Linked DNA regions of Homo sapiens: region 2 is linked to region 1. The links come from fine-mapping of genetic effects on gene expression. A gene starts in region 1. The other region holds a variant in brackets. All regions are shown on one strand. Distances are from middle to middle.

Region 1 (16,932 bases):
CCTCGCCAGGCCGAGCTAAGTCCCAATTCTTCCTCAGCCTCCGCTCCTCCACTCTATAATCTTTTTATCACCTCCCCTCCTCACACCCGGTCAGGTTTACAGTTTCATTCTGTGAGTAGCCCTCACCCACCTGCCTAGCAATTTCCTCTTAAAAAGCTGGCTGAAGCTAAAGGCATAGTCAAAGTTAATGCTCCTTTTTCTTCATCAGACCTCTCCCAAATCAGTAAGCGTTTAGGCTCTTTCATCAAATGTAAAAAACCCAGCCCATGGGCAAAGACACAACCAAAAAAGAGAATTTTAGACCAATGTCCTTGATGAACATTGATGCAAAAATCCTCAATAAAATACTGGCAAAACGAATCCAGCAGCACATCAAAAAGCTTATCCACCATGATCAAGTGGGCTTCATCCCTGGGATGCAAGGCTGGTTCAATATACGCAAATCAATAAATGTAATCCAGCATATAAACAGAGCCAAAGACAAAAACCACATGATTATCTCAATAGATGCAGAAAAGGCCTTTGACAAAATTCAACAACCCTTCATGCTAAAAACTCTCAATAAATTAGGTATTGATGGGACGTATTTCCAAATAATAAGAGCTATCTATGACAAACCCACAGCCAATATCATACTGAATGGGCAAAAACTGGAAGCATTCCCTTTGAAAACTGGCACAAGACAGGGATGCCCTCTCTCACCACTCCTATTCAACATAGTGTTGGAAGTTCTGGCCAGGGCAATTAGGCAGGAGAAGGAAATAAAGGGTATTCAATTAGGAAAAGAGGAAGTCAAATTGTCCCTGTTTGCAGATGACATGATTGTATATCTAGAAAACCCCACTGTCTCAGCCCAAAATCTCCTTAAGCTGATAAGCAACTTCAGCAAAGTCTCAGGATACAAAATCAATGTGCAAAAATCACAAGCATTCCTATACACCAACAACAGACAAACAGAGAGCCAAATCATGAGTGAACTCCCATTCACAATTGCTTCAAAGAGAATAAAATACCTAGGAATCCAACTTACAAGGGATGTGAAGGACCTCTTCAAGGAGAACTACAAACCACTGCTCAAGGAAATAAAAGATGATACAAACAAACGGAAGAACATTCCATGCTCACAGGTAGGAAGAATCAATATTGTGAAAATGGCCATACTGCCCAAGGTAATTTACAGATTCAATGCCATCCCCATCAAGCTACCAATGCCTTTCTTCACAGAATTGGAAAAAACTACTTTAAAGTTCATATGGAACCAAAAAAGAGCCTGCATCGCCAAGTCAATCCTAAGCCAAAAGAACAAAGCTGGAGGCATCACGCTACCTGACTTCAAACTATACTACAAGGCTACAGTAACCAAAACAGCATGGTACTGGTACCAAAACAGAGATATAGATCAATGGAACAGAACAGAGCCCTCAGAAATAACGCCGCATATCTACAACTATCTGATCTTTGACAAACCTGAGAAAAACAAGCAATGGGGAAAGGATTCCCTATTTAATCAATGGTGCTGGGAAAACTGGCTAGCCATATGTAGAAAGCTGAAACTGGATCCCTTCCTTACACCTTATACAAAAATTAATTCAAGATGGATTAAAGACTTAAACGTTAGACCTAAAACCATAAAAACCCTAGAAGAAAACCTAGGCATTACCATTCAGGACATAGGCATGGGCAAGGACTTCATGTCTAAAACACCAAAAGCAACGGCAACAAAAGACAAAATTGACAAATGGGATCTAATTAAACTAAAGAGCTTCTGCACAGCAAAAGAAACTACCATCAGGGTGAACAGGCAACCTACAAAATGGGAGAAAATTTTCGCAACCTACTCATGTGACAAAGGGCTAATATCCAGAATCTACAATGAACTCAAACAAATTTACAAGAAAAAAACAACCCCATCAAAAAGTGGGCGAAGGACATGAACAGACACTTCTCAAAAGAAGACATTTATGCAGCCAAAAAATACATGAAAAAATGCTCACCATCACTGGCCATCAGAGAAATGCAAATCAAAACCACAATGAGATACAATCTCATACCAGTTAGAATGGCAATCATTAAAAAGTCAGGAAACAACAGGTGCTGGAGAGGATGTGGAGAAATAGGAACACTTTTACACTGTTGGTGGGACTGTAAACTAGTTCAACCATTGTGGAAGACAGTGTGGCGATTCCTCAGGGATCTAGAACTAGAAATACCATTTGACCCAGCCATCCCATTTCTGGGTATATACCCAAAGGACTATAAATCATGCTGCTATAAAGACACATGCACACGTATGTTTATTGCGGCATTATTCACAATAGCAAAGACTTGGAACCAACCCAAATGTCCAACAATGATAGACTGGATTAAGAAAATGTGGCACATATACACCATGGAATACTATGCAGCCATAAAAAATGATGAGTTCATGTCCTTTGTAGGGACATGGATGAAATTGGAAATCATCATTCTCAGTAAACTATCACAAGAACAAAAAACCAAATACCACATATTCTCACTCATAGGTGGGAACTGAACAATGAGATCACATGGACACAGGAAGGGGAACATCACACTCTGGGGACTGTTGTGGGGTGGGGGGAGGGCGGAGGGATAGCATTGGGAGATATACCTAATGCTCGATGACGAGTTGGTGGGTGCAGCGCATCAGCATGGCACATGTATACATATGTAACTAACCTGCACAATGTGCACATGTACCCTAAAACTTAAAGTATTAAAAAAAAAAAAAAAACCCAGCCCAGTTCATGGCTTGTTTGGCAGCAACCCTGAGACGCTTTACAGTCCTAGACCCTAAAAGGTCAAAAGGCTGTCTTATTCTCAATATACATTTTATTACCCAATCTGCTCCTGACATTAAATAAAACTCCAAAAATTAAATTCCAGCCCTCAAACCCCACAATAAGATTTAATTAACCTCACCTTCAAAGTATACAATAATAGAAAAAAGTTGCAATTCCTTGCCTCCACTGTAAGACAAACCCCAGCCACATCTCCAGCAAACAAGAACTTCCAAACGCCTGAACCACAGCGGCCAGGCATTCCTCCAGAACCTCCTCCCCCAGGAGCTTCCTACAAGTGCCAGAAATCTGACCACCAGGCCAAGGAATGCCCACAGCCCAGGATTCCTCCTAAGCCACATCCCATCTGTGCAGGACCCCACTGGAAATCAGAATGTTCAACTCACTTGGCAACCACTCCCAGAGCCCCTGGAACTCTGGCCCAAGGCTCTCTGACTCCTTCCCAGATCTTCTCGGCTTAGCAGCTGAAGACTGACACCGCCTGATCGCCTCAGAAGCCTACAGGACCAACACAGACACTAAGTAACTCTCACAGTAGAAGGTAAGTCCGTCCCTTTCTTAGTCAATACGGAGGCTACCCACTCCACATTACCTTCTTTTCAAAGGCGTGTTTCCCTTGCCTCCATAACTGTTGTAGGTATTGACAGCCAGGCTTCTAAACCTCTTAAAACTCCCCAACTCTAGTGCCAACTTAGACGATACTCTTTTAAGCACTCCTTTTTAGTTATCCCCACCTGCCCAGTTCCCTTATTAGGCTGAGACACTTTAACTTAATTATCTGCTTCCCTGACTATTCCTGGATTACAGCTACATCTCATTGCCGCCCTTCTTCCCAATCCAAAGCCTCCTTTGCATCCTCCTCTTGTATCCCCCAACCTTAACCCCCAAGTATAGGATACCTCTACTCCCTCCTTGGCGACCGGTCACGCACCCCTTACCATCTCATTAAAACCTAATCACCTTTACTCCTCTCAATGCCAAGATTCCATTCCACAGCACGATTTAAAAAGATTAAAGACTGTTATCACTCGCCTGCTACAGCATGGCCTTTTAAAGCCTATAAACTCTCCTTATAATTCCCCCATTTTACCTGTCCTAGAACCAGACAAGCCTTACAGGTTAGTTCAGGATCTGCGCTTTATCAACCAAACTGTTTTGCCTATCCACCCCGTGGTGCCAAATCCATATACTCTCCTATCCTCAATACCTCCCTCCACAACCCATTATTCTGTTCTGGATCTCAAACATGCTTTCTTTACTATTCCTTTGCACCCTTCATCCCAGCCTCTCTTCGCTTTCACTTGGACTGACCCTGACACCCATCAGGCTCAGCAAATTACCTAGGCTGTACTGCCGCAAGGCTTCACAGACAGCCCCCATTACTTCAGTCAAGCCCAAATTTCATCCTCATCTGTTACCTATCTCGGCATAATTCTCATAAAAACACACGTGCTTTCCCTGCTGACCGTGTCCGATTAATCTCCCAAACCTCAATCCCTTACAAAACAACAACTCCTTTCCTTCCTAGGCATGGTTAGCGTGGTCAGAATTCTTACACAAGAGCCAGGACCGCACCCTGTAGCCTTCCTGTCCAAACAACTTGACCTTACTGTTTTAGCCTAGCCCTCATGTCTGTGTGCAGCAGCTGCCGCTGCTTTAATACTTTTAGAGGCCCTAAAAATCACAAACTATGCTCAATTCACTCTCTACATTTCTCATAACTTCCAAAATCTATTTTCTTCCTCATACCTGATGCATATGCTTTCTGCTCCCCGGCTCCTTCAGCTGTACTCACTCTTTGTTAAGTCCCACAATTACCATTGTTCCTGGCCTGGACTTCAATCCAGCCTCCCACGTTATTCCTGATACCACACCTGACCCCCATGACTGTATCTCTCTGATCCACCTGACATTCACCCCATTTCCCCATATTTCCTTCTTTCCTGTTCCTCACCCTGATCACGCTTGATTTATTGATGGCGGTTCCACCAGGCCTAATTGCCACACACCAGCAAAGGCAGGCTATGCTATAGTACAAGCCACTAGCCTGCCTCTTAGAACCTCTCATTTCCTTTCCATCGTGGAAATCTATCCTCAAGGAAATAACTTCTCAGTGTTCCATCTGCTATTCTACTATCCCTCAGGGATTACTCAGGCCCCCTCCCTTCCCTACACATCAAGCTCGAGGATTTGCCCCAACCCAGGACTAGCAAATTAGCTTTACTCAACATGCCCCGAGTCAGATAACTAAAATACCTCTTAGTCTAGGTAGACACTTTCACTAGTTAAGTACAGTCCTTTCCTACAGGGTCTGAGAAGGCCACCGCAGTCATTTCTTCCCTTCTGTCAGACATAATTCCTCAGTTTAGCCTTCCCACCTCTATACAGTCTGATAACAGACCAGCCTTTATTAGTCAAATCAGCCAAGCAGGTTTTCAGGCTCTTGGTATTCAGTGAAACCTTTATATCCCTTACGGTTCTCCGTCTTCAGGAAAAGTAGAACGGACTAAAGGTCTTTTAAAAACACACCTCACCAAGCTCAGCCACCAACTTAAAAAGGACTGGACAATACTTTTACCACTTTACCTTCTCAGAAGTCAGACCTGTCCTCAGAATGCTACAAGGTACAGCCCATTTGAGCTCCTGTATAGACACTCCTTTTTATTAGGCCCCAGTCTCATTCCAGACACCAGACCAACTTAGACTGTGCCCCCAAAAAACTTGTCATCCCTACTATCTTCTCTCTAGTCATACTCCTATTCACCATTCTCAACTACTCATACATGCCCTGCTCTTGTTTACACTGCCGGTTTACACTGTTTCTCCAAGCCATCACAGCTGATATCTCCTGGTGCTATCCCCAAACTGCCACTCTTAACTCTTGAAGTAAATAAATAATCTTTGCTGGCAGGACTATGCTGAATCTCCTTAGGCTCTCTCTAATCAGATGTCCTGAGTCGTCCCAATTCTTAGACCTTTTATACCTGTTTTTCTCCTTCTCTTATTCCATTTAGTTTTTCAATTCATACAGAACTGTATCCAGGCCATCATCAATAATTCTAAATGATAAATATTCCTTCTAACAACCCCACAATATCACCCCTTACCACAAAATCTTCCTTCAGCTTAATCTCTCCCACTCTAGGTTCCCACGCCGCCCCTAATCCCGCTCGAAGCAGCTCTGAGAAACATCGCCCATTCTCTCTCTCCATACCACCCCCCAAAATTTTCACCGTCCCAACACTTTACCACTATTTCGTTTTATTTTTCTTATTAATATAAGAAGACAGGAATGTCAGGCCTCTGAACCCAAGCTAAGTCATCATATCCCCTGTGACCTGCACATACACATCCAGATGGCCAGTTCCTGCCTTAATTGATGACATTCCAGCATAAAAGAAGTGAAAATGGCCTGTTCCTGCCTTAACTGATGACATTGTCTTGTGAAATTCCTTCTCCTGGCTCATCCTGGCTCAAAAGCTCCCCCACTGAGCACCTTGTGACCCCCACTCTGCCCGCCAGAGAACACCCACTTTTGACTGTAATTTTCTTTTATCTACCCAAATCCTATAAAACGGCCCCACACTTATCTCCCTTTGCTGCCTCTCTTTTCGGACTCAGCCCGCCTGCACCCAGGTGATTAAAAGCTTTATTGCTCACACAAAGCCTGTTTAGTGGTCTCTTCACACAGACACGCATGAAAGTTGCCTTAATGATTTACCACTTCCCTTCGTATAACTCTTTATAATTAAAAAAAAAAACACTTCCTCATTTGATCCTCATAACAATTTTACAAAGTAAGGAGATCAGGTATTATCAACTCAATGAATGAAACTAAGATACTGAGCTTGTGGATTCATTCATCATTCTGTAATACTTATTGAACACTATTTCCAGCAGAGTGGCAGGCTGGAGCTATAGTGGCAAAAAAGAATGCAAGGCCCCTGCTCTGATGGAGTGGGAGACAGAGAATGAATACATAAATAAACAAGATAATTACAGATTTTGATAAATGCTCTTTAGGAAATAAACTGGGTAATATGATAGAAAGTAACTTTGAAGGGATGTGGGGCAGGGGTTACACTCTTAGTTAGGGCATGGCGTCCCTGAACAGGTGATGATGAAACCAACAGTTAAAACTGAGCAGGAGCTGGTTGGGCTGAAGACCTAAACGAGGAGGGTATCAGGAAGCTGTGTATACAGAAGCCCTCACATGGGAAGACACTAGCTGGGTTAGAACAGAAGAGGCTGGGGAGCTAAAGTGTAGTAAGCATGATAGAAAGTGGGGGGCTTATAAAGACATGGGGTCTTACAGACCAGGGGTCAGCAAAGTATTGCTCATTGTGCAGAATCTCACTCGTGAGCAGAATCTGGCCCACAGCCTGCCTGTACAGCTGCAGGCTAAGAATGATTTTTAGCTTTTCAAATCTTTGGGGGAAAAAGCAAAGAATAAAGAGATTGATATATGAAATTAGAGTTCCAGTATATATAAATAAAATTTTATTGGAACACAGCCTCATTCACTTATTTACATATTGCCTATGGCTATTCCAGGATACAAGGGCAGAGTTGAGAAGTAAAACTATTTTAAATGTTTATACTTGGCCCCTTGCAGAAAAAGTGGGTTGATCTCATCATAGACCACGGTGAAACATTTGGATTTTATTCTAAATCCACAGAATCCAGCATCAAAACTATTTTACCTGACATAACAATTCATAGATTGGTGGCATCCAGTGGCCAGCAAAGTAACAGCTAGCATTTGAGTGCTTGTATTTATCAGACACTTTTCTAAGTACTTCACATGTGTAAGCTTTTTAAATCTTCTCACCAACTCTATTCGGTAGAAACTATTATTCCCGATTTATGAAAGAGGAAGTTGAATCTTAGAAAGATTCAATAATTCACACACAGTCACACGGCTCATGAGTGTTAGGGCTGAGACCAGGACCATGTCAGCCTGGTTCCAGAGCCTGGACTAATCATGGAAAATGTTTTTTAAAAGAAACTTCAATGAAAATATTGCAGAAGCCTGAGGTGTCTTGGGGATACTTGGGTTCTTCAGAATACAGTTTGGAAACCACAACTTTCATCTAATCTCATTTATAGATGAAGACGCCAGGGCTGGTCACTTATCTGGGCAGAGCTCCATGAGCTGGGGCCTGAAGCTGGCCCTTGCTATCCTGTGGTATACTCTCCGAAACCACAATTGCCTTCTGAAATCAGCTCATATTTGGGTTGTTTTCAGAATGATCTATTTCACTAGAGTAAATAAAGTTTCTACCCTCACGAAAGCCCAGGTTCACAATAGTAGGTTTTTTCGGCAGAAGTCTTAACAAAAGGTGAATGATGCCTTTCCTCCTCCCGGCACACCCAACCTACCATGGTTCCTGTGGGGATGAGATGCTGCTCCAGCCACCTGAGGTCTGCAGATTTATGGAGAATGTTTTTTGTGCCAAGATGCTGGGTGCTCTGGGTATTATAATATTTTCAATTTAACCATCCATGAGTGCCCCATAAAGAAGGTGTGGCCCCGGGTGAGCTGGTTCTCTTCCACCGAGGGCAAGTATAAAAATTTGAAGTCCTTCAAAGGAATCTCATAGACAAAGAAAAATGTGTGTGTGTGTGTGTGTGTGTGTGTGTGTGTGTGTATCACTGACTCACTGTGTCACTTCAGGCAAACTTCTTAATTCTTTGGGTTTTTTAAATTTTATTTATTTTTTTTGAGACAGAGTCTCGTTCTGTCGCCGAGGCTGGAGGGCAGTGGCGCAATCTCGGCTCACTGCAACCTCCGCCTCCCAAGTTCAAGCAATTCTCCTGCCTCAGCCTCCCAAGTAGCTGGAACTACAGCTACCGTAGTCTGGCTAATTTTTTGTATTTTAGTAGAGATAGGGATTCACCGTGTTGCCCAGGCTGGTTGCAAACCCCTGAGCTTAGGCAATCCACCCATCTCAGCCTCCCAAAGTGCTGAGATTACAGGCGTGAGCCACCACGCCCGGCCAATTCTTCATTTTTAAAAATGCTACAGTCGAACTTTCTCAGCTCCTGCCTTATGATTCCTGGACAGTCACCTCAGGCTGTAATTATTCTTCCCATTTTACAAGTGAGGAAACTGATTCCAACAGGCAGGTAGTGTGCTTAGTGCTACACAGCTGCTAGTGACAGGGCCTAGGGGACAAGCCTGGGTCTGTCTGCTACTCACTCCCATGCTCGTCCCACTAAGCTCCCACTACTGCTAGGAAACTTCTCTCTGAATCAATAATTAATTTCAAAGGCTGCTGCTCTGGCTTAGAAACTCCACAGTCACTTTGTGCAAGTTTTACAGCAGTGCTCAGAAAACCTCAACACTTGGTGTGAGTTATCTGAGGCATCTTCTGGTAGATGCAGGCGAGTCCACCTCTTACTCTGACCTTGGGAAAGGTCACGATTCTTCACAGAATCTGTGAAAGGTCAAGAAGAAAGTGTAGGCCCCTTTTGTAAATGCAACAAAAAAACCCAGTGGCTTCTAGACATAAGGAAATCCCCTGTTTTCTGACCCTTAAAACAGTTCATCTTTAGCCTATTTAATAAATGTCTTATTTTTCATGTTTGCACCCCCCCACCCCCAAAACTCAGGTTGACAAGGGTGACGATGAAAAATAGAGAGGATGTTTGTTTATTTCTCCAAAATATGTCCCCCCTCTGCCACCCCACCAAATGTTATTTCCTATTAGTATTGAAACATAATATGAAGATTTCATAAAACGGAGACCAAAATGACAAACTAGCTATCAGTTGTGAGGTCTCCCACATACTGTTCAGTAGACTCTTTCCCATTAGAAAATAGGTAGACCACTTATTACCTTCCAACCTCGTCTTTTTCTCCCAATTCACTGAGCAGCCACAATCTGCTGCCCTCTCCTGTTGAATACTACATGAGCTGCAGGCTGAAGTGGGGGTAATGAGAACAGGGACCCTGGAAAGCACACATGTATGTCGTCCACCAGTTCACCTTGTAGCATTTCCCCCACCAACCGTTCTTAATGTCCAAGTCCAGTGGACTATTGTGACATTTGTCAAGGTTTTCAACCAGTTGAATATGGCACCCGTGGATGAAAAGGATACACTCTCCATCGTCCAAAGTGCAATTTAAAGTAAGCTCTTCTTTAATGCTCTGGGGAAATTGTAAGTCAAACATCTTTTTAGACTTCAGAGCAAAAAGAGTAGCATTTACATCTCAAATAAAGAGTCAATTTAGTCTTTCATTCACTCGTTGACAACCTATGTCAAGTGTTGTTGTGGGTCAGGTTCCTGGGAAACAGAAGCTGATACAGAGATCCGTGTGCAGAAGTTTATAGATGAGTACTCTTGGTGACAAGAAGGAAGCAAGTTGGAGAATCGGTAGAAGCTGGACTGAGGTGCAGTTACAACAAAGATCTCAGCTGATCCTGATCCCTTGGGGAGCTTCAGAGTTGCTCCACCTCAAGGCAAGGGAAAAGGACCTTGAGACCCCCTCATGGATGCCCTATGGAGGAAGAGTGACCCTGGGTAAACTGTTCTCTTCTACTGAGGACAAGTATAAAAATTAGAAGTTCCTGGATGGAATATTATGAGCAAAAGGGAAAAAATTAAAAAATGAAAAATTTGAAAGACAAAATATTGTGTTTTGGAGGATTTTTTATTTTTATTTTTTTAAGACAGGGTGTCACTTTGTCACCCAGATTGCAGTACAGTAGTGTGATCACGGCTCACCGCAGCCTCAACCTCCTGCATTCAAGCAACCCTTCCACCTCAGCCTCCCAAGTATCTGGGACTACAGGCATGCACCACCATGCTCAGCTAATTTTTGTATTTTTTGTAGAGATGGGGGTCTCACTATGTTGCCCAGGTTGGTCTTGAACTCCTGGCTTCAGATGATCCTCACACCTCAGCCTCCCAAAATGCTAAGATTACAGGCATGAGCCACTGTGCCCAGCCAACAAAATATTTGGAAGACATTTTTGATGAGTAAGACTTTTCCTACCCAAACTTCATCAAATTTATCAGAGTATTAACACTAATTTCAATTAGAGCCAGTAAGTAGTGTTTCCTTTTCATTTTCCAAGCATTGCAGACTGATCTCTGTTTTCTAAACATAAACTTACTAATATTTTACTGTGTGCTCCTGGAAAAACTACATTAAATCTATCTCAATTTGTCCAATTAATGAAAATTAAATACCAGAACTGTTCATATGTACATTGTCTCCCCCACTAGATTATATTCTCCTGAAAAACAAGGAATTTATGTTTTTTATTTGAGCATGTCTCAAAGTAGTGCATACTAGATGCTGTACAGGTGACAAGATGAATGGGTGGATAGAAGGATGGATGGATGGATGGATGGATGGATGGATGGACGGACGGACATATGTATAGATAGATGGGTGGGTAAATGGATGAATGAGTGGGTGAATGGATGAATGCGTGGGTGGATAGATAGATGGGTGGTTGGGTGGATGGATGAGTATTTGCATGTATAGATAGATGGGTGGGTGAATGAATAGGTCATGGACGGATGGATGGATGGATAGATGGATGGGTGAATGGATGGATGGGTGGATAAATGGATGGATGGATGGATGGATGGATGGATGGATGGATGGATGGATGGATGGATAGATGGATAGATGGATGGATAAATAGATGGATGGCTGGCTGGCTGGATGGATGGAGAGATGGATGGATGTGTGGATGAATAGATGGATGGATGGGTGGATGGGGAATGAGTGGGCAGGTAATACATGAGTGAGTGGGTGGATGGAAGGATAAATGGATGGGTGGATGGATGTGTGGGTGGATGGATGGAAGGATGGATGGATGGATAGGTGGATGAATAGATTTGTATTTGTGAGTGGGTGGATGAAAAGATGGGTGGATGGGTGGGTGGACAGATATATAGATTTCAAAAATGAGTATATCTATATGAATGAATGAATTCCTCCCCGACAACAATTATAAATTGATGTCAGCATAGAAATAAAATATTCCCAAAGGTTGAGCAAAAATTATCTAATTGTATTTATCTAATAAACTAGAAAAGTAAAAATAAGGATGACGTCACTACACAGGGACATTTTACAGTATTTCTCCCACCCATGCTCCCTCTAAAAACCTTGCAACTAGTTGATTTACCAGTACTACCCACTTGTGGTAAAACAATTTTTGTCACCAACACATCACTCACACCTCTCTGCCATCAAGATAATACATGTGGTCCCCAAAATGTTCCACCAGGAGGTGTTCTGGGGGCAGCTAACTAAGAGGGGGCTTCCAGACAGATGGAGGAGTTGATACACATGAGGTCACAGATCTACTGCCTCTCCCCCTTTAAAAGAAACTACTCAGCTCCATTTGTCTCAGAATCTAGAGGAAGTTGACAAAGGTGCCACAGCAGCACAGCACAGTATGTGGTGGAGAGTTCTCAGCTTGCTGGCATGGTTCCCCTTGCAAGGTAAGGACTTAGAGTTATTTTTGTTGTTGCTCAGCTGACTTAATGTTTTGCCACATCTACCTATCAGTCAGTCAACTGCATTTACAGAGGAGCTGCTGTAGAAGACAACCCAGGTAACTGCTAATACTTTCCAAGCCATGCTCAAATCATGCATCTGAGGGATGTTACTGCGTTTATTTGATCTCTCGTTCAATGGCTAAGGAGTATAGAAAGGATCATTATAGTGTGTGTCTCTGTGGGTCCTATGTTACGGCAAGATGAAACAAGCTTATTAGGCTCTGTCTTTTAAGGGCATACCAGTTGAAAGAGCATCCGTATTGAATTTTATTTTATTTTATTTATTTATTTATTTATGAGACACAGTCTCGCTCTGTCGCCCAGGCTGGAGTGCAGCGGCACGACCTCGGCTCACTGCAAGCTCCGCCTCCCGGGTTCACGCCTTTCTCCTGCCTCAGCCTCCCAAGTAGCTGGGACTACAGGTGCCCGCCACCACCACGCCCGGCTAATTTTTTTATATTTTTAGTAGAGACGGGGTTTCACCGTGTTAGCCAGGATGGTCTCAATCTCCTGACCTCGTGATCTGCCCACCTCAGCCTCCCAAAGTGCTGGGATTACAGGCGTAAGCCACCGCGCCCGGCCTCCACGTTGAATTTTAAAATTTCCTTGCTGTATAAATCTTAGCCAAACGATTTAATCTCTTTGAAACTCAGTTTCTGCATCTTAAAATGAAAATGATAAAAACTTTTGATCCACCAAACTCCCTGGATTGTTAGAAGGATCAAATTTCAAATGTGAAAGCACTTTGAAAATGATAAAGCGCTGTGCAACACTTATTTAGCTCAGAGGTAATAATGAGACCAATGAAAACTTCGTGTTTATTTTTAAAGAGTAAGTTATACTTTACATTTTACTATAATTTTCAAATTTGGATTTTAGTGCTTAATCCTAATGTAGCATTATGAAAATTAAGGATAGAAGCAGTTACCTTTTTGGAGCAGGTCAAATTATTTTCTACCCAAAAGTGGGGGCAGGGGTGTAGGAAGTGGCTCCTGTTGTCCCTCAGTCTCTGCTTACAATTGTATCAGATTCATGCAAAGGACATCCCTCACAAATCCACTCAAAAATTTTGCTTTTTGTGTGTTTGTTACCAAATATTGAAACTGTAGTTCTGTTTCATGAAATGCACCTATCCTTCTAAATCTACATTTAATCTGGAATGGCATCTGAAGGACGCTACTTTAAAAAACTCGATTTCCTATTTTACATAGTACTTCAATTCCCTATTTTATATACTTCAATTAATGCCTTCTTTTTTTGGTCCCTGTACCCTGAGGCACTTAATAAGGATTCAATTTTGGTAATGAATAATATTAGTTTCTTCATTAAGTGGCTTAAAGAATAGCTAATACATTCAAAAAGAGTACATTTAGACAGCTAAAATTAGGATGATTTCAATTTTTCCAGAGTTTAAAGCCTTTCACTGACCTTAACTTTTTCAGGCTTTGAGTTATTGCCTCATAAAAAATAACTCATAAAAATACATTTTTTAAATAAATAGCAAAAATTATGTTTCAAGGTAAACCTAAATTACTTAAATATTATTTATATAGAGAGGAAAAATATTGTTTCATGCACAGTGCTGAGTACTTTGTGTTAATTACACTTAATCATAGCGGAAGTACTGAGGTAGGTACTAATATCCCCAATTTAAAGATGAGAAAAGAAGTTATGTAACCTGCCCAAGTTTTAAAGCTAGAATATGACAACATAAATACCAGCCTATAAAGCACATAGTAAAAGTATTTATTTCATGAAACTTCTAATTAACGTGTGTGTGTGTGTGTGTGTACTAGTTGTGACAGAAAATGTATTAATGTGGATCAAAAGTTGGAAAACCACTGACTTTCACAATTTGGAGGATTCAATATTAAAAAGTCCTATTTGAAAACTCGTTCAAGGGGCCACCCGAGGGCATCTAAGCTCAATGGCATTTGAGCAGTGGCTGCCACCCCTGACCTAACCTTGCTCAAGCCCATCCCAGACGTAATTAGGAGGAGGTGACCATGTTGCTTTCTTGTCAGCAAAAAAGGCAGCAAATCATCAGTTTTGGCAAAGCTATAAACTGTCAGCTGATTTTAGCAAATTAAATTATGGGAAGATCACTGTGACTACTTCTACAGTGTTACTTCTATGGCTGCCAAAAATTTATGGAAAAAAAAAAAGTCACGTAATCTCAGAGCCTGCCCTCTTTTCAAGGCCACTCCCAGAATAAATAGTCTTAGGACTGGTAAAAACACAATAAAAATGAAGCATTTTTCAAAATTCATCCCATTAAATTACACTGTAGACAATGAAAATGTCAAATCCAATGAATTTTGAACCCTCTGTTTTCATTGTTTTGTGGAGGGTAGGATGCAGAAAACAAAGGAAAATTGCAAATTGAGTAGTTCTTTTCATACTTTCTTTGCCCAGGAAAAAGTCACATGTTAGATGACATGTTGAGACAGCTTCTTTAAAATGTACTAAAAATATTCCGATTCTGACAAGTCTGATTTATTTTTATACCTGCAATTTTCTCTATTGATTCAATCTAAAAATAATAAAAATCTTTTTTTGTAATGATCTGAATTAAAACACACTTTTGCTTAATGCCTCATGACAGTCATGTAACTAGGGCTCTGATTTGAGAATTAATGCATTGCATGTCTCTGGCTTTAACTTAGCCCTAGTCTTTATTATTTGATATAACAGTTAAAGAGCAAAGTTAGCATCCTATTATAATATTTATTCCTAAATATATACTTTTACTCTATTTTTTTTTTTTTTGAGACAGAGTCTTGCTCCGTCGCCCAGGCTGGAGTGCAGTGGTGTGATCTCAGCTCACTGCAAGCTCCACCTCCCGGGTTGACGCCATTCTCCTGCCTCAGCCTCCCGAGTAGCTGGGACTACAGGCACCCGCCACCACTCCTGGCTAATTTTTTGTATTTTTAGTAGAGACAGGCTTTCACCATGTTAGCCAGGATAGTCTCGATCTCCTGATCTCATGATCCGCCTGCCTCAGCCTTCCAAAGTGCTGGGATTACAGGTGTGAGCCACCGAGCCCGGCCTATTTACTCATTTTTATCCACTAATTCAACCAATATCTAAAATTTTACATTATGCTAAAATGAGTGGATGGCAAACAGCTTTTCCATAAGGAGTTTGTAATCTATCTACAGAGAAACACCTGTAACCAAATAATTATAAAGTAATGTGCTAAGTGCTGTAATAGAAGTATATCTCAAGACTTTGGGAAACTAGGGGAAAGACATTATGGGGAAAAGGGAAGCTAAGGCCTGTTTTGGAAGTTTTGACAAAAGTTGTGTAATTTGAGTTGAGCCTATAAGTTGAGTCTTGAGTTGGGTCTTAATGTTGAGTCTTGAAGGAGATGAGAAAGACATTCCAGGACAAGAGAATATCATAGAAAAAGACAAACTATCTTCTGGAGCCTGGAACTTTCTGGAAACAGCAAGTGGACATGTACAAGGACTATCTGAAAAGGAGTATCACGACATGGCAAAGGAGGAGAACACAGGAGTCAAGTCGGCTGGAATTTGGGCCTGATTCCTATAGGCAATGGAAGCCATAGCAAACACTTGAATGAAGGAAGAGACATAATCAAATTCATGGGTTATATGTTTGTTTGTTTGTTTGTTTGTTTGTTGAGATGGAATTTCATTCTTGTTGCCCTGGCTGGAGTGCAATGGCACAATCTCACTCACCACAACCTCCACCTCCCAGGTTCAAGTGATTCTCCTGCCTCAGCCTCCAGAGTAGCTGGGATTACAGGTGCCTGCCACCATCCCTGGCTAATTTTTTGTATTTTTAGTAGACATGGGGTTTCACTATGTCGGCCAGGCTGGTCTCGAACTCCTGACCTCAGGAGATCCACCCGCCTCGGCCTCCCAAAGTGCTGGGATTACAGGCGTTGAGCCACCACGCCCGGCCTCAAATTCATGGTTTTAAAATGTAATCCTAGAACCAGATGATGATGATGAATTAGAGAGAAGAGAGACTAGAACTAAGTTATTACAGTGGTCCAGGAAAGAAATGATGGAGTCCTTAACTAAGGCAGCAATAATAGTGACAAAAGAGGACTAAATTGATTAAAGGATGTTTTGGAGAAAGAAGAGTTTAGAGCACCTCTCAAATATCTGGTGTGCAGTGGTTGGTGATGACATTAATTTATATAAGGGAACTCTAGAATGGGGCAGGTGGCATATCTGTGTTAGACATGGGTGGAGCATGGGGACAGTAGAGATAACGAGTTCCAATGGGACATGTAGAGTTTGGGGTCTTTGCAGGACAGGCTTGCTCTGCTCTGGTTTTAAATTTATTGCATGTAAAAACTAGGCTATTAAGGCAAGAAAAGGAAAGAATATTTTATTCTTTTCTCAGTCTACATGATAGTCTATAGTAGAGGTAAAGATTGCACATGAGAACTTCCAAAATCTTGGGAAAGACCAAAAAATCTTACGAACTGCACTGGTTTTGTCTATGTGTACTTTGGTAGATGGCTGTTACTGCTGCTTGTCCTTTTGTTTGGGAGTAGATCACATGTGCTTTGGTGTAAAGCCATCCACTGATAGGACAATTAGTTCAT
Region 2 (8,000 bases), 31 kb after region 1:
CTGTGCCCACCCGACATGTCAGTGTTAGTATTTGTAAAGTGACAGGCACAGTTATTACATGCTTCCTGGATGTGGCTGGTAAAACCTGTTCAATGACTGGTAAAACCTATACTAGGCTGACCCTCTGGAAACATTCCTAAGCATTGATTAATGTTATACAATAACATTTAGCACTGTGCTTCATAAATAGCTAGGCATTGTACTAAACATGTTATATAAATGAACTTACTAATTCTCACAAAACACTCGAAGAGGTAAATGCTGTCAGTATCTCCATTTTACAGATAAGAGAAAAAAAAGTGCTAGGTCGGGTATCTTGTCCAACTCATTCAGGAGCAGGTAAATAGCAGCACTGGAATTCAGCCCAGTCTGAGGCTGATTCCAAAGCCATCTAATAGGTAGATAGATAGGTGGATGGGTAGATAAACAGACAGAGGGATTGATTGATGGATAGAAGGACACAGATAGAAACAGTGAATACTCTTTGCCTACCACTGCCACCACACAGAGGTCCAGCATGCTGTGCTTTAAGCCAGGCAGGTGAGCAGATGGACACTCAGTGGGATACAGATTCAAAAACCAGAGCAGGAGCCACAGAACACACAGTTCTGGGGTTTCTGCACAACCTCTACAAGCAGGTAGCCGCTAAATATATTCTCCAATCTCTTTTACTGAGCACAATGTGGGTAAAACTGCTCTCTATAGTAGCAGAATTTTGTTTTTCCCCTTTCCTAGTTACTGATGAAGAGACAGCTTCAGATGCTCTGGAGAGAAACTCTCTATCCTCTCAAGACCCACAGCAGCCCACCAGTACTGGTAAGTGTCAAAATCATTCAAACTTGTTTTTAAAAAATCACGTTTCCTTGGGAAGGTTATTTTTCTCATTCTAAGTTTTAAGAATATTTTTTGTTTTAATTTTTACTAAGACCATACAGGCCCCTCCAACTGGCTCCAGCTTTGTACCATCCTAGAGAAGAACCACATCAGGCATCGGAATACTTAGTGGGATGGGCTTCAGGCTGACATAAAGCTTTGCAAGTTCAGTTCTAGTTTGCCTGAGATAGAGATGTACACATGTACACACACACATTCACGACTGTGACATTTGAATTTCCTCTGCAGTAAAGGACAAAGTTGAATTCATTTATAGAGAGACTCGTTTCTTTGTTTTCCCATCTGAAGCACACCAAACACAAAACACAGACTTGGTATCAACAAAGAGAAAAGAAGCAGAAGCTGGAGATTTGGTGTTGTCATTGAATAACAAAATCACCTCTGAAGGCACATCAATTACTTGATTGTCAATAACTCAGGTCATTTTTGATGATGGGATTGAACTACAAATACAGAATAATTTAGAAAGCCTGGATTATAATTCCAATTTTTTAGACAGTGAACTCACTAGAGGTTAACTCAGAGCAATGATTGTATATCTAATTTAACTTTGTATTTTACCTAGCATAGTATCCAGCAATAGCAGCTTCTCAGAAAATGAATTACGAAAGAAAGAAAGAAAGAAAGAGAGAAAGAAAAGAAAGAAAGAAAAAGAAAGAAAGAAAAAGAAAGAAAGAGAGAAAGAAAAGAAAGAAAGAAAAAGAAAGAAAGAAAGAAAGAAAGAAAGAAAAAGAAAGAAAGAAAGAAAAAGAAAGAAAGAAAGAATTGGTTATGGTGCTTTGAGCAAGACTATTAGCCTCATCCAGAAAGGCATAAATTCCTACATATTCTCTTTCCATTTCATGTAATGTGTCAATAATAATTTCATTTGTTGGAATAAGGGCTTTCAGAGCATTATCATGTTCATAGTTCTGAGTATCAGATCATATTTTTAAAAATTTGTATCCTAAATAATATTTAAAAGTAAATGTTTGGGATTTCTAAACACTGATAAATACAACATGTACCATACAATTTTTTGAAGGACAATGGAAATTGAAAATATTATGAAGTGGAACAGCCACATCACTTGCTTTAATAATCCAATATTTGTAAACGTGTTTAGAATCTAGTAATCTTTAACGGCTTGCTACTGAGCAACTCAATTTTCTGCTCTGCTTTTTCATATATAAGACTTTTAAAATAGGGTTTCTAAAATTCCTTTCAGCTTTCCATTTCTACGATTTTATTACATTTAATACCCATTTTCAATAGAATGGGAGGCTTCATTCCCCTCGGGGTCCACATAGTGGCGCTGTGCAATGGACTAAAAAGCAAGAAACTGCAGAGAGAAAAAAGGAAATTGGAAACATCAGCAGTAAAATCTGGAAAAAAAAACCACACAGTTTCTGATTTTTTATAATTTATCTTATCTAGAAAAAACATCATAGTACATCCCACTTCTAATGGGGAGGCAAGCAGAGGTTTGAATAACTGAAGCTATATTTCAACATAAATTTCAGGCTGTAGGTTTTCTATAATTAAAGCTTGGAATGCCGTTCCTCGGTGTTCAGTTGTTATCTTGAAGCATCCTAAAGACCTTCTCCCTAATAGGCCTGATTCAGGATGGAAATATGAAATAATGGTTTAAATGCTGGGCTCTAGAGTTAGGTAAAACAGAGTTTATGTATTGGCTTTGCCACTTATTTGCTACAGGACTTTAGGTACTTTACATAACTGCTCTAAACCTCCGTTTTCTCAGAGCTGTGGTGAGAAATAATATATACCAAGTGCTCAGTTCAAGGCCAGGCACAGAGTAAATGCCCAAAACATTTACCTTAAAAAAATAAGGCAAAGTGAGCCTAGCCATTTGCAATTATGTTTGCAAGAAATCCATAGTTCACAAATGATCTCAGTACTGTTTTTAAATTTGGCTTCCCAAGCTGCTCTGGGAAGACTTACGTAACTACAGTTGTATGTAGTCACATGTATATAATGCATGCATAGCTCATGTTTTATCTTCTTTCACTTTAGTCTCAGTAACGGAAGATTCTAGTACATCGGAGATTGACAAGGAAGAGAAAGAACAAACCACTCAAGATCCTGACTTGACCACCGGTAAGTGTCACCCACTGCATTTAGAATAAACACTCGACATTTTAACCTCTTAATCGATAAATTCAATGGCCTTTGTCAGTCCTCCCTTTTCTTGACCTTTCTGCCCTTTAGGACATGATTGGTTAATCACTCCCTTGTCCCTCCTTGATTTAGTTACCTCTCGGCTTCTTGACATACTTTTCCTGGTTCTGTTATTTGTTGCTAACCACTGCTTCTCTGTATCCATTAATTAACTTATCTTCCTCTTCTGACTTCTTAAATGTGTATGTACTTCTGATTTTACTTCTCCATCTTTTGTTCTTCCCTTTTTTTTATATATATATATTTTTTTTGTGAGACAGAGTTTCTTTCTTGTTGCCCAGGCTGGAGTGCAGTGGTGCAATCCCAGCTCACTATAACCTCCACCTCCCGGGTTCAAGTGATTCTCCTGCCTTAGCCTCCCGAGTAGCTGGGATTACAGGCACACGCCACCACCCCAGCTAATTTTGTATTTTTAGTAGAGATGGGGTTTATCCATGTTGGTCAGTCTGGTCTTGAACTCCCGACCTCCGGTGATCTGCCTGCCTCGGCCTCCCAAAGTGCTGGGATTACAGGCGTGAGCCACCGCGCCCGGCTGTTCTTCCCTTATTTTTTAAAGAGTTTACTCATTCCCAAGATGGTTCCTGTTGCCACTAGGCAAAAGATTTCTCTCTTTTTTTTTTCTGGTTTTGTTTTGTTTTTAGAGACAGGGTCTCTCTCTGTCTCCCAGGCCAGGGTGCAGGGGCACGATCATGTTCACCGCAGCCTTGAACTCCAGGGCTCAAGAGATCTCCTACCTCCACCTCCCAAATAGCTGGGATTACAGGTGTGAGCCACTGTGCCCAGTAAGCAAAAGATTTCTATACCTATATTTCCAGAACATCCTCCTCAGCATTGCTCCCAATTTCTTTCCATTTTCTATGTATCTGTAGCTGAATTTTCTGTGATTTCCCCAAACTCAACATTGCTAAATACCAAAC[A/G]GCACCTTCTCCCACAAAATCAGCTTGTCCAAAGCATCACACAGGCCCCAAAGCAACACACGGGTCCCAAACCTTGGTGTTATCTATCACTCCTATGTATGTGTACAAATATATCTATGTGTATATGTATATGCATATGCACACACGTATATAAAATCAGTCAATTTCCAAGAACTTTTGAGTCTTGTCTTTCAGGTATTTTGTCCATTGTCACTGTTAACGTCCCAATCCAGGCTCTCATCATCTCCTGCATGGAGTATTATAACTTCAGTTTCTCCTCCTCTGGTTCACTTTTAGCACCCTACCATCAAAATATCTCTTTATCTGCATACCTGTGTTCTAAAACCCTTTATAGCTTCCTGAAGTCTACAACACAGAGCATGAGTCCCAAACACCTCATTAGGTGCCATCTATTACCTACTTCTGCAGTCTCATATCTACAAAGTCCTTATGAGATACATATTTTTCTCTGAAAACATCAACCCTTTTCAATCGCCCTGCCCTTGTTTATCCTCACTGCCCCTGGTGGAAGAGGAGACCTCCTCTCACCTCTCCTTACTCCCTCTTCAAGGCCAATATCTTCACTGAAAACTTTTTTGACCAACTCAACCCTCAGAGACCATTCTTGCCTCTGAACCCCTGAACACACTATGATATAAATACATATGGATCCAGAATTTGACATATCTTACTTTTGTTTGTTTTTATTAATTTGTTTATATATAGAGACAGCTAATCCCCAAAGCATGTGAACTGTGCCTTCTGTAGGTCCAAGCACAATGTTCTACACATAGCTGGCACTCCTTAATTATTCATTGGTTAAGATGAGGTGACTAGGACATTTAGCAAGACTACAGCCCATAGAATCAGAATTCTAGGTTTAGAAAGCCTTTTTTTTTTTTTTTAAGAGACAGGTCTCATCTGTCTCCCAGGTTGGAGTGCAGTTTCACAGTCATAGCTCACTGTAACCTTAAACTCCTGGACTCAAGTGATCCTCTGCCTCAGTCTCCCAAGTAGCTAGGACTACAGGTGTGCACCACTGCTCCTGGCTAATTTTTTATTATTATTATTTTTGTAGAGACAAAGTGTCACTATGTTGCCCAGGCTGGTCTCAAACTCCTGGCCTCAAGCAACCCTCCCATCCCAGCCTCCCAAAGTGCTGGGATTACAGGCATGAGCCACTGCACCTGGCTAGAAATATTTTCACAAGCTCATCTGATTTAGCCCAAATGCCTTCCTGTAGGGCCACATTTAACCTAACCAAGATAAATAAATTTTCATTTTATTTGGATAGTTTTTTAAACTCCTTAACAATCCCTCTTGCTACTTAACTATATTTTGCTAAAAATCATTCCTAAAGCTAATTTGAATCTCCTGACTATAACTTAAGTCGATTTTCTCATATGCTTTCTGTAGAAATAAAAAATAACTAGCCCAATAGCTACGTCACTTAAAAAATCTTTTCAAATCATCACACATAATTGCCTTGTTTGTTGTATGCCTGTTTGCTTGTTCTCAGAGAATGAACAATGTAAGTCTCTTTACCTTCAGGGGTAAGCTCTTTCTCATCTCTTCATCTGAGCTGTCTATTAGCTTATATCACATTGTAGAAGTATTGTTACATATTCTCCAGTGGCAAAAAAAAAAAAAAAACCCAAAGTATCTAAACTCCTTTTTCATTTTCCTTATAGAAGCAAATCCTCAGTATTTAGGACTGGCAAGAAAGAAAAGTGGCATCCTGCTGCTCACGCTGGTGTCCTTCCTCATTTTCATACTCTTCATCATAGTCCAGCTCTTCATCATGAAGCTGAGGAAAGCACATGTGATATGGAAGAAAGGTCAGTGGGCAGGGAACCTGACGGGGGCTATAAGACGCCAGAACAAATGGCTAAAAAAAAGGGAAATTCTGTCCATTAAAGCTTTCTGTCAGACACTACATAATCTATTTGATAAGTGCTGTCTCAGATAAGCAATTGTTTGTTTTCTAGTAAACTCGGGTGTGAATCTCCAGGGACTATAGTCTAAGAGTGTATAATCAATAGAAACTAGCATAGATCCAGAAATTGGCATTAAATGATAGACACTTCTATTCACAGAAGGATAAAAATCCCAGGACTGCCTAGCACAGTCCCTACAGGAATCAAAAACTATGTGTTGAATTAATGAGGTATGAGTTATGGGAGGGGCATGGTAAGTCTACTATTGCACAGTAACAGAGGTATTATCTTATTCAAATATACATTTCTACATGTCCATGGCATCAGAAATTAGTTGCTTGATTTTCTTTTTTTGTAGAAAACGAAGTTTCAGAACACACACTAGAAAGTTACAGATCAAGGTCAAATAATGAAGAAACATCATCTGAAGAGAAAAATGGCCAATGTAAGTCAACTGTATGACCTGAGATCTGAACAATGAGGTTCATTAATGTATTAGTCAGATTTCTCCAGAGAGACAGAGACAACAGAATATGTGTGTGTGTGTGTGTGTGTGTGTGTGTGTGTGTGTGTGTGTGTGTGTATGAGGTGGGATTTATTAGGGGAATTGGCTCATGAGATTATGGAGGCTGACAAGTCCTTGGACAGGAGGTCTGCAAACTGGAGACCCTGGTATGCTGGTAGCCTGGCTCAGTCCAAGTTCAAAGGCCTGAGAACTCAGGGGACCGCCAGCGTTAAGTCCTGAAATCCGAAGCTAGGGAGTCTCGAGTTCTGCTGCCAGGAGAGAGGAGGGAGTGTATTCCAGCTCCAGCAGACAGATCAACACATTTGCCTTCTTTCTGATTTTGTTCTTTCTGGGCCCCCAACAGAATGGATGGTGCCCATCCACATCAAGGGCAAATCTCAATGCCCACCTACTCCACTCAGACTCACACACTAATCTCCTCTAGAAACAACCTCATAGACAAACCCAAAAATAATGCTTTACCAGATTTGAGGTATTTCTTAATCCACCCAACTTAACACTTAAAATTAACCATCGCAATTAAGTAGTCGCCTTTAAAAAGAAGGAGGCTGGGTACGGTGGCTCACGCCTGTAATCCCAGCACTTTGGGAGGCCGAGGCGGGCGGATCACGAGGTCAGGAGATCGAGACCATCCTGGCTAACACAGTGAAACCCTGTCTCTACTAAAAATACAAAACAATTAGCCGGGCATGGTGGCAGGAGCCTGTAGTCCCAGCTACTTGGGAGGCTGAGGCAGGAGAATGGCGTGAACCCGGGAGGCGGAGCTTGCAGTGAGCCGAGATCGTGCCACTGCACTCCAACCTGGGTGACAGAGAGGGACTCCACCTCAAAAAAATAAAAATAAAAATAAATAAAAAGAAGGAGAAGAATCAAAATCTGATTTTTTAGCACTAGAAAGTCTCCTAAATCATCCTGTAGAACTTAAGGAGTCTCATCTGCAAAAATAAATAGTAGCAGTTAAGTTCATGTAGCAGAAGGTGACTTCCTTTTGGGAAGCCATCCTTGACTGTTTGACGTCACACACAGGGATACCCCAAGACCACCAGAGGATCCTATGACACCTTTGTCATAGAAGCACGTCTTCCTCCATATTGTAATTTTTGGTGTTTTTACATAGCTACTACAATACTCCTTTAGGTGGTGAGTAATCAGATTTACTCTGTATCCTCAGATTCTAGCACAGGTTAGTTGATAAATTTGTGTTAAATGAGTGACTATAGGCTCAATTAATTCAAGAAGGCATGTGTCAGGTCCTTTGGATGACTTCATTGCAATTCCTGAGACAAAATATGTAAAGAAAATGAAGAGAATCGGGATGGGAAGGAGATTGTGTATGGGAAGTGGAGGTTGGGGATTGTATTCTTGATAAAGATCTGGAAGGCAGAAGCTAGGACTATAGAAAAGCAAGAATATTCCACCTTCCAACCATATTATTTCCTCCATACAAACTAACTTATTCTACCCGCCAGGAGCTGCAAGAAATACAGCGAGTTTTGCCGCTCTATTCTATTGGTTTTACTGAGGTTTTTGTAGGAGGCTTGTCTTTTA

What was found. PIP is the estimated chance that this variant, and not a neighbour inherited with it, causes the effect.
Region 2: its variant is the best candidate, but not a certain one, in a credible set for the expression of CRTAM in whole blood (INTERVAL, PIP 0.65).

What each region holds. Positions count from the first base shown.
Region 1 is chr11:122,826,303-122,843,234 of GRCh38, forward strand. CRTAM (cytotoxic and regulatory T cell molecule) reads left to right here and starts at 12,198. Exons shown (of 10, transcript NM_019604.4): 1 at 12,198-12,290. The coding sequence starts at 12,245. RefSeq lists an enhancer at 5,874-6,546.
Region 2 is chr11:122,861,729-122,869,728 of GRCh38, forward strand. CRTAM (cytotoxic and regulatory T cell molecule) reads left to right here. Exons shown (of 10, transcript NM_019604.4): 6 at 736-816; 7 at 2,908-2,991; 8 at 5,681-5,827; 9 at 6,285-6,371. Among named protein-coding and RNA genes, the nearest start is that of JHY, 17 kb to the right of the region's middle. The variant A/G (reference allele first, on the strand shown) is at 3,990.